Linked DNA regions of Homo sapiens: all the other regions are linked to region 1. The links come from fine-mapping of genetic effects on gene expression. A gene starts in region 1. Each other region holds a variant in brackets. All regions are shown on one strand. Distances are between the middles of the regions.

Region 1 (2,748 bases):
TGCATTCTGTCCTAGTTGCTTCTATTTATTTTTTCTCTCTTTTTGAATCTGTGAAACATTAACAGGGTTCCAAACATCAGAGTGTTTTGTCTAAGCTTAAAAGCCCTCTGGGTGATTCCGATGAGCAGAGGCCGGGAAGGATTGAGCAAGACCATTCCCGAGCTCCTTCCTCCGCTCTGTTTCCAGATCCCATGACTGGGGACCTATAAATATTTTCCTGACATGGAGCAGGATCAACTTCAGCATCTGTTAGCTTCATCCCAAAGGCAGGGAAGCCTAGAGCCCCTGGGAGGGCTCTGCACCGCACACACCGCCGGCCTGCAGCCCCAGCCCTGTGCGGGGTCCTGGGGAGGGGGGCCCCCTTTCTGTGGCTCTTCCTGACTCCCTGCGCGTTCCACCCCAGACCCTCAGCCCACTCTGACCTCCCTCCAGGAGGGATGGCTTGCAAATGCCCTCTGGCCACAGTGCAGACCGCTAGGCTGTTCTGTGCAGCTTTAGGCCATGCCAGGAAAGAGACTTAAAGCCAGGGCCCCAAAGGCCAGGGATGCCTGCGCCGGGAGCCAGGAGCTTCCCCAGCCACTTCCAGCATGTAGACTGAAGTCAGGCCACGCACAGGGCTCTCCAGGTCACACCCTGCGCAAGAAGGTGTAGCACGCTGGCTCTAATTTCGAGAAGGTGAAAACAAGAGCCCCTCTGCCCCCACGCCCTGAGCTTTCCCGAAAGGCTTGGGGCAAAGAACTCCCCTCAGTGGCACCTAGGGAGGCACCAGGAAGGCGCTTGTTGGAACGGGAGAGAAACGGGGAGAGGGAGGAGGACAGGGGGGAGGGGAGGAGGGGAGGGGAGGAGGGGAGGGGAGGAGGGGAGGGGAGGGGAAGGGAGGGGACAGGGAGGGGAGGGGAGGGATAGGACAGACAGACAAAGAAAGGGGTGCGGCAGCACTGCCAGGGGAAGAGGGTGATCCGACCCGGGGAAGGTCGCTGGGCAGGGCGAGTTGGGAAAGCGGCAGCCCCCGCCGCCCCCGCAGCCCCTTCTCCTCCTTTCTCCCACGTCCTATCTGCCTCTCGCTGGAGGCCAGGCCGTGCAGCATCGAAGACAGGAGGAACTGGAGCCTCATTGGCCGGCCCGGGGCGCCGGCCTCGGGCTTAAATAGGAGCTCCGGGCTCTGGCTGGGACCCGACCGCTGCCGGCCGCGCTCCCGCTGCTCCTGCCGGGTGAGTACTGCGTGCCCCCGGGACACCCAGAGAGGGCCCGGGCCTCCTGCACTTTCCCCGCGGCCCAGAACCTTGTGGCACCTCCAGAGGGACCCCCAGGACTGGCTGCGACCGAGCTTTAAGGGTCTAGTCCCGGGGGCAGCCAGTCGGCCAAGGCCCCGGGTCCCTGCGACGGCGAAGGCATCCCGGAGGCCGCACCCAGACCGGCCCGGCAAGCTGCAGGGACTCGGACTGAAAACCTGCCCGTTACCCCTGGTCGCTCGCAGGCGCACGGGCGATCTAACCCCGCGCCGTCCATTCCGCTGATGGGGGTCTCGGAAGCACCGCAGGAGAGCTTTGCGGAGCAGGGAGGGGGTCGCGGGTGCTCGGGGCCGTCCTCAGAGCCCAAAGTGCCGCAGCCCTCTCGGCTTTCCACCCCGAGGCTGCCACGACGGTGCCAGCGCGCGGCTGCTCCCCTCTGTGCTCCCAGGTGATGGAAAACCCCAGCCCGGCCGCCGCCCTGGGCAAGGCCCTCTGCGCTCTCCTCCTGGCCACTCTCGGCGCCGCCGGCCAGCCTCTTGGGGGAGAGTCCATCTGTTCCGCCAGAGCCCTGGCCAAATACAGCATCACCTTCACGGGCAAGTGGAGCCAGACGGCCTTCCCCAAGCAGTACCCCCTGTTCCGCCCCCCTGCGCAGTGGTCTTCGCTGCTGGGTAAGTACAGCCCCCTCCTCGCCTCCTGCTCCACCAGGAGGGCTGCGGCGCCGGAGCCCCCCGCACAGCTGCACGGCGGCGCTTCCCAGTCTGGGGCGTGCTGACGTCGGGAGACTCTAACACCAGAATGTTTGCCGAGCGCCTGCGGTGTGCGGTTCCGGGGATGCGGTGGGGGCAGGGGGCGCTCACGGGGAGGGCGCAGGTGGGTCGCGGCAGGGGCAGCCACAGGGTGTCACGGTCCGACGTGACTGGGGGCCATGGTTCCCTGCGGGCGGCGGGGAGGGATTTCCTGGGGCGCCCCCTGGAATCCAAGCCCGACCGCAGTGTCTGACCATGGTCCGCGGCGCGGCCGGGTGGTCCTGCAGGGGCCGCGCATAGCTCCGACTACAGCATGTGGAGGAAGAACCAGTACGTCAGTAACGGGCTGCGCGACTTTGCGGAGCGCGGCGAGGCCTGGGCGCTGATGAAGGAGATCGAGGCGGCGGGGGAGGCGCTGCAGAGCGTGCACGCGGTGTTTTCGGCGCCCGCCGTCCCCAGCGGCACCGGGCAGACGTCGGCGGAGCTGGAGGTGCAGCGCAGGCACTCGCTGGTGAGCGCGGGGCCGGCCGGGGGCGGGGTCCGGGGGGCCGGGGCCAGGCGCGCTGAGCCGCTGTCGCCGCAGGTCTCGTTTGTGGTGCGCATCGTGCCCAGCCCCGACTGGTTCGTGGGCGTGGACAGCCTGGACCTGTGCGACGGGGACCGTTGGCGGGAACAGGCGGCGCTGGACCTGTACCCCTACGACGCCGGGACGGACAGCGGCTTCACCTTCTCCTCCCCCAACTTCGCCACCATCCCGCAGGACACGG
Region 2 (2,748 bases), 67 kb before region 1:
CCTGCACACCTGGTGGCAGAGCACAGCTGTGGTCAGGCCTGTCCGTGGCATCTGCTGTCTGTTTCTGTCGGAAAGTGTCTGAGAGGCACGGAGGGCCTCCATGTGGAGGCCGCCAGCACGAGGGTGGAGCCCCACACGGAACCCTGGAAATCTCAGGTGTCCACCCGGCTGGCCCAGGAGCAGGGCCGTGGCCCCTGTGGAGCTGTTCCTTGTGGTTGGTCTGCGCTCTCTGGCCCGGAAGTGCGTGCAGTCGGAAACAGCCTTGGGCTTGGGGGATGCTGCAAAGCCTGCTTCAGCACAGGCCGTGTGACTGTGAAGCCTCCTGGGTGTGTCCCCAAGCCTGCAAGGGTGGGCTGTCCGGGGAACCCTGGCACGGTGGTCAGGGGCAGCTCATGGGTGATGTGAGGAGGCACCTTGGGTGCCTGAGCCTGATGGGGCTTGGTGTCTCCACCTGCTCCCCCCTCCCCACCGTTCAGCTGAGGGACCCGGTTCCCACTCACCCAGCACCCGGGAGTCCCCCACGCGGTTCCGACGAGGGACCCGGTTCCCACTCACCCAGCACCCGGGAGTCCCCCACGCGGTTCCGACGAGGGACCCGGTTCCCACTCACCCAGCACCCGGGAGTCCCCCACGCGGTTCCGACGAGGGACCCGGTTCCCACTCACCCAGCACCCGGGAGTCCCCCACGCGGTTCCGACGAGGGACCCGGTTCCCACTCACCCAGCACCCGGGAGTCCCCCACGCGGTTCCGACGAGGGACCCGGTTCCCACTCACCCAGCACCCGGGAGTCCCCCACGCGGTTCCGACGAGGGACCCGGTTCCCACTCACCCAGCACCCGGGAGTCCCCCCAGGCGGTTCCGACGAGGGACCCGGTCCCACTCACCCAGCACCCGGGAGTGCCCCACACGGTTCCGACGAGGGACCCGGTTCCCACTCACCCAGCACCCGGGAGTCCCCCACGCGGTTCTGACGAGGGACCCGGTTCCCACTCACCCAGCACCCAGGAGTCCCCCCAGGCGGTTCTGACGCAGCCGAGCGGTCTGCAGTGATCCCGTGTGTCCATGCCTTCCTCATCAGAAGTGAAATCCAAGGATACTGAGAGCGGATGTCTATCCACTCACTCAGAAACAGCAACATAAACCTTTCTGCTCATGAGAAGTCATCACCACCACACACAGCGGGGAGGGAGGCCACGTGCAGAGGGAGGCCATGTACAGTGTCACTGGGCGGCCTGTCTATGGTGCTCGTGGGCAGCTCCCGTCCAGAGGGAATGAAGGAACAGGCGAACCAGGACGCGGTTTTGACCGTGCAGACCTCACGTTTGGGATCTGGTTTCCTATCTTGAAGGAAAGTGGGTGGAATGGCCAGTGGCTCCTCCGAGGACGCCAGGGCGCGAGGACCTCACGGGAGGGGCATGGGCCCAGCCGTACTGGGAGCCCTCGGCTTTGGGGTGGTCAGTGGAGACCCATGCCCCGTCCCCTGCAGGCGTGTGCTGCAGGCCCACTGCACCCCTGGGCTGTCCACCAGAGCATTTCTTTTCTCTGCCATGGGTTCCAGGAGGCACTTCCCTGCTTCCTGGATACTGGCAGCTCGGTGGCCTCTGCTCACCTGCAGGCGGATGGGGCAGCGGATGGGGCGGGAGACTGGGCCGAGCGTGCTTGTGGCCGCGGCCACTGGAGAGCCTGCTGGGTCACTCTGCTCCTTGGTTCTGTC[G/C]TGCGCCTCCCCTCCTGCTGGCCGAACGGTCCTGGGTACTGCTTGGTCTCCTGTGGCCGGTCTTTGGAGGAGGAGGGGAGGGACCGGCTGGGCCCTGGCCCCAGCTCCGCCTCTGCCCAGCTGCCGTGGGGCTGACAGTGGCCCCACCTGGTGCTCCCTGCCTGGCACGGGGCGGTCGGGCGGTGCCTGGAAGCTGCCATGCTTCTGTGACGCCTCAGAGCCCTTATTTCTCCAGTTGGCCCCGATGAGGCTTAGTTGCGTCATACGCGAAAGGAATGGGTGTTAATGAGCTTTAATCATCTGGTTCTGGGAAGGTCAGGGGCACAGAGTGGACTTTAACAGGTTTTAACCCTTTTCTTCCTTTGTTCTGTTTCTTTTCTCTTCACATCTATAATTGGAAGTAATGCCAGGCAGAGGGTTGGGGGCGTCCTACGTGAAACACTGGTGACCCCATCAGGGATTCCGGGCAGCCACGCGGTAGCCCAGGCAGGAAAGGGACAACCATGTTCCCAAAGTCCCGTGCTGTCATCTTGTGTCCTCCAGTGTCCTGGGTCCCTCCTGTCCCCCTGCCTCATGGAGCTGCCCTGGGGTCTCGGACGGTCTGGGAGGGTCTCGGGGGGTCTCAGAGGGTCTTGGAGGGCCTAGGAGGGTCGGGAGGTGTCTCGGTGGGTCTGGAAATGTCTTGGGGAGTCTCAGAGGGTCTGGGAGGTTCTCAGAGGGTCTGGAGATTTCTTGGGGGGTCTCGGAGGGTCTTGGAGGGTGTGAGAGGGTCTCAGAGGGTCTGGGAGGATCTCGGAGGGGCCTTGGAGGGTCTCGGAGGGGACTTGGAGGGTCTCGGAGGTCCTGTGCCCAAGGGAGATGGTAGTGGGTGTCCACAGTCTGTGTCCACTTGAGTCAGCGAGCTGAGGCACACACGAGTTGTCTTTCACGTGGATTTTTAATTTACTTTTTACAAATATCACAACATATAGACCAGAAAACCCCCGGCGGTCGGCCCTCGTTGGCCCGTGCACAGTGGGTGGCGTGGAGTGGG
Region 3 (2,748 bases), 210 kb after region 1:
GGATGCAGGCCGTCCAGGTGGGTCTGATCTCACTTTGTGCCCCTCGGGCCGTCCCCCTGGCCAGTCCTTAAGAGCAGCAGGCTCCCTGGTGTGTCCCTGCCCCAGCAGACACAGGCTGCCAGTCCCTCCAGCCTCACCTCCCCGCCCTGGGCAGCAGGTGTGGGCAGCGTGTGAGGCTGCCGGGTGGTGGTGACTGGTGACTTCCTTGTGTTCAGGGAAGGGAGAAGGTGCCTTCCCTTGTTTTCTGGCCTTGTTATATACAGATGGCAGCTTGGATCTCAGGTACAGCTCCAGGGGCAGGCAGTGCCCAGCTGGACCTGGTGGCCCTTTCCTAGTGCCTCTGCTTGGGGAGGAGAACCTCTGTCCACGTGGAGGCTAGGAGGTCTCAGGTGCTGCCCTGGCAGCACCAGAGTGTGGGCCGGGCCCGAGTGTCTGCCCCTCGGCCCTCAGGGTGGGGCACTTAGCACCCAGAAGGGACCAAAAGCAGGGCATGGCGGTGCAGAGGAGTTTGGGAGGTGTAAACAGCCCATGCACGTGGAGGAGGAGCTGGCTTTCAGCCCCAGACCCCACGCTAGCACTTTCCACGCTGCTTGCCCGCTGTTGATGTGCAGTTCCCAGTGCCTGTGTGAGCCGACATCTGCTCAGTCCTATCCCTCGTCAGCGTGTGGAGACCCAGCTCCTGCAGCCCTCCTGCTCCCACGCCCCCAGACAGCTTGGTGGAGGGTCCTGCATCTGGGCCAGGCTGGGGTGCACCCAGCCAAAGACAAAGCTGCCTCCACGTGCCCAAGGATTCAGATGGTGCACTGGCCCCGGGAGGAGTCTGACCAAAAATGGAGCCCGCTCTGTGGGGAAGCCCCGACTCCCCCACGAGAAACGGTCCCACGGTGCGGATCTCCCCCTTCCCTTGTGGGGCACAGCTGGCCTGGGCCTCCAATCCTGCGGAGCTTTCCTGGGTGTGGCTTTGACCTCAGAAGTGGCTCTGGTTTGGCCTCAGGAGTGTGGCCTGGCCCAGCCTGCTGCAGCCTCCTGGGGGGCCCTTGATGCCACTAATCCCCCGACCCCCCGCATCTGCCAAACTGCACAGACACACGCATTGTAAGGCCGCTTGTGGCCTCCAGCGTGCACTCTTGTTTACGTCATTGTCATCTTCAAGACCAGTCCTTTGTGATTAGTTTTGCTTCGC[G/A]AGCCCTGGTGTGGACTGTGGTCTGTATGAATCGTGTGTAACTGTGGTGAGGGGCTTGTCCTGTATGTGAGTCTGTACCCAGGTGGGGTCTGTGCCCTGCACACCGGGCCCCTCTGTATTTATCGCTGCCTGAATGCAACAGTAATTTATATCCAGGACAAATACAGTCTGGGCGTCACTATCCTACCATCTCTTCCTCATCTTTGTGTCAACAACCGAGGGGAGGGGAGGGCCTGGCTTGGCACCCCCGACCCCACCAGCTCTGTATAGGCCTCAAAGGGGCTGGGAGTGGGCTGCCCCTCGGGTAGGTGAGCTTGGCAACGTGTCTTCAGGTTGGAGAGAGTGGATAGGCAAATGCCATAAAGCACATTTCCAGTTCCTGTGAAACTCCTCTCTCCGCAAAAAGTGGAGAACAATTTGAGGACTGAAATAAGAGCATGATATTTCACAATGAAAATAAAACCAGGCCACGCAAGAACCACTGCGGCCTGCCCGTGACTTGGCTTCCCCTGCCCAGCATCCTGTCCTCCCTGGTCCATCTCTGGTGAGGACGGCTGGGAGTGGGCTCTGTGGCTGCTAGCAGGGGGCAGGGAGGAGCTGGGACTGTGGGTCGTCCTGGCCCGTGGGGGCTGGCGGGGGGTGTTCGGGCCGGGCGAGGCCCCGCAGGACCCGCAGGGTGGCCAGGGCCAGGCCCACGAGCAGGCGCAGCAACAGGAAGGCGCAGGGCACGGCGATCTGCATGAGGTGGAAGATGCCCACACTGAACCTGCTCAGCAGGCAGGTGGAGGCGAAGGCCAGCAGGCTGGCACAGGGGTACAGCGCCAGCTTGGCGAACATGAGCACATGCTCCCGGCCGCCAAACCACACCGAGGGCTGCAGCGTCTCCGCCTGGTGCAGCAGCGCCGTGGTCCACATGGCCAGCTGGAAGATGCTGGCCAGGAAGATGATGGTGCAGCTGACACGCACGCGCTCCAGCTCATCGCGGGGCTGCCGGGCGAAGGCCGAGGTCTGCTGGTAGGCTAGTGGGAGGCCACCCACGAAGGCCAGCGAGAGCGTGTTCAGCAGCCCCATGGCCCGCGTGGCCTTGCGCACATGCAGGAAGAGTGAGTGGTGGGCGAACCACAGCAGTCCCACTGTGGCGAAGGAGCCGAAGTACGCCAGGAAGCGCGGCCCGGTCGCACTCAGGGCGGCCACGAGGCTGCCGCTGAACCTCTCCTTCACATCCTTGGGGTCCGGGACGTTGTCTTCGCTGAGAACAGTGAATAGATGCATTTGTGCCGGCCTTGCCGTGGCCACACAGGCCCCAGCAGGGTGGCTGAGCGCCTGTCAGGGCTGCCTGGATCTGGCACGTTTTCAGATGAACCATGTGGACTTCCCAGTGTGCTAAATTTCAGAACGCCGTATTTATGTGTATTTGGCACACTGACTGTTACGTGCTGTTCATCTGAAATTCCATAGAAACTGGCACCCTTCTGCTCTGTGCTAATGGGAGCCCAACCCTGCTGGCCCAGAGTGCTGCTGGGGGCCCTGGGCTGCAGCCCTCTCTGGCCGAGGCTCTCCTGTGT

What was found. PIP is the estimated chance that this variant, and not a neighbour inherited with it, causes the effect. A credible set is the group of variants that fine-mapping cannot tell apart.
Region 2: its variant is the best candidate, but not a certain one, in a credible set for the expression of SPON2 in lung (TOPMed, PIP 0.88).
Region 3: its variant is the best candidate, but not a certain one, in a credible set for the expression of SPON2 in whole blood (TOPMed, PIP 0.81).

What each region holds. Positions count from the first base shown.
Region 1 is chr4:1,171,007-1,173,754 of GRCh38, reverse strand. SPON2 (spondin 2) reads left to right here and starts at 1,172. Exons shown (of 6, transcript NM_012445.4): 1 at 1,172-1,211; 2 at 1,681-1,903; 3 at 2,269-2,492; 4 at 2,565-2,748. The coding sequence starts at 1,684. All of the region lies in intron 1 of LOC124900647 (nascent polypeptide-associated complex subunit alpha, muscle-specific form-like), which reads right to left. RefSeq lists enhancers at 559-1,276, 1,277-1,992.
Region 2 is chr4:1,238,393-1,241,140 of GRCh38, reverse strand. All of the region lies in intron 2 of CTBP1 (C-terminal binding protein 1), which reads left to right. Among named protein-coding and RNA genes, the nearest start is that of CTBP1, 9.4 kb to the left of the region's middle. RefSeq lists an enhancer at 665-1,165. The variant G/C (reference allele first, on the strand shown) is at 1,716.
Region 3 is chr4:957,508-960,255 of GRCh38, reverse strand. TMEM175 (transmembrane protein 175) reads right to left here. Exons shown (of 11, transcript NM_032326.4): 11 at 1,600-2,432. The coding sequence ends at 1,760. It overlaps DGKQ (diacylglycerol kinase theta), which reads left to right. Exons shown (of 23, transcript NM_001347.4): 23 at 1-1,369. Among named protein-coding and RNA genes, the nearest start is that of DGKQ, 15 kb to the left of the region's middle. The variant G/A (reference allele first, on the strand shown) is at 1,184.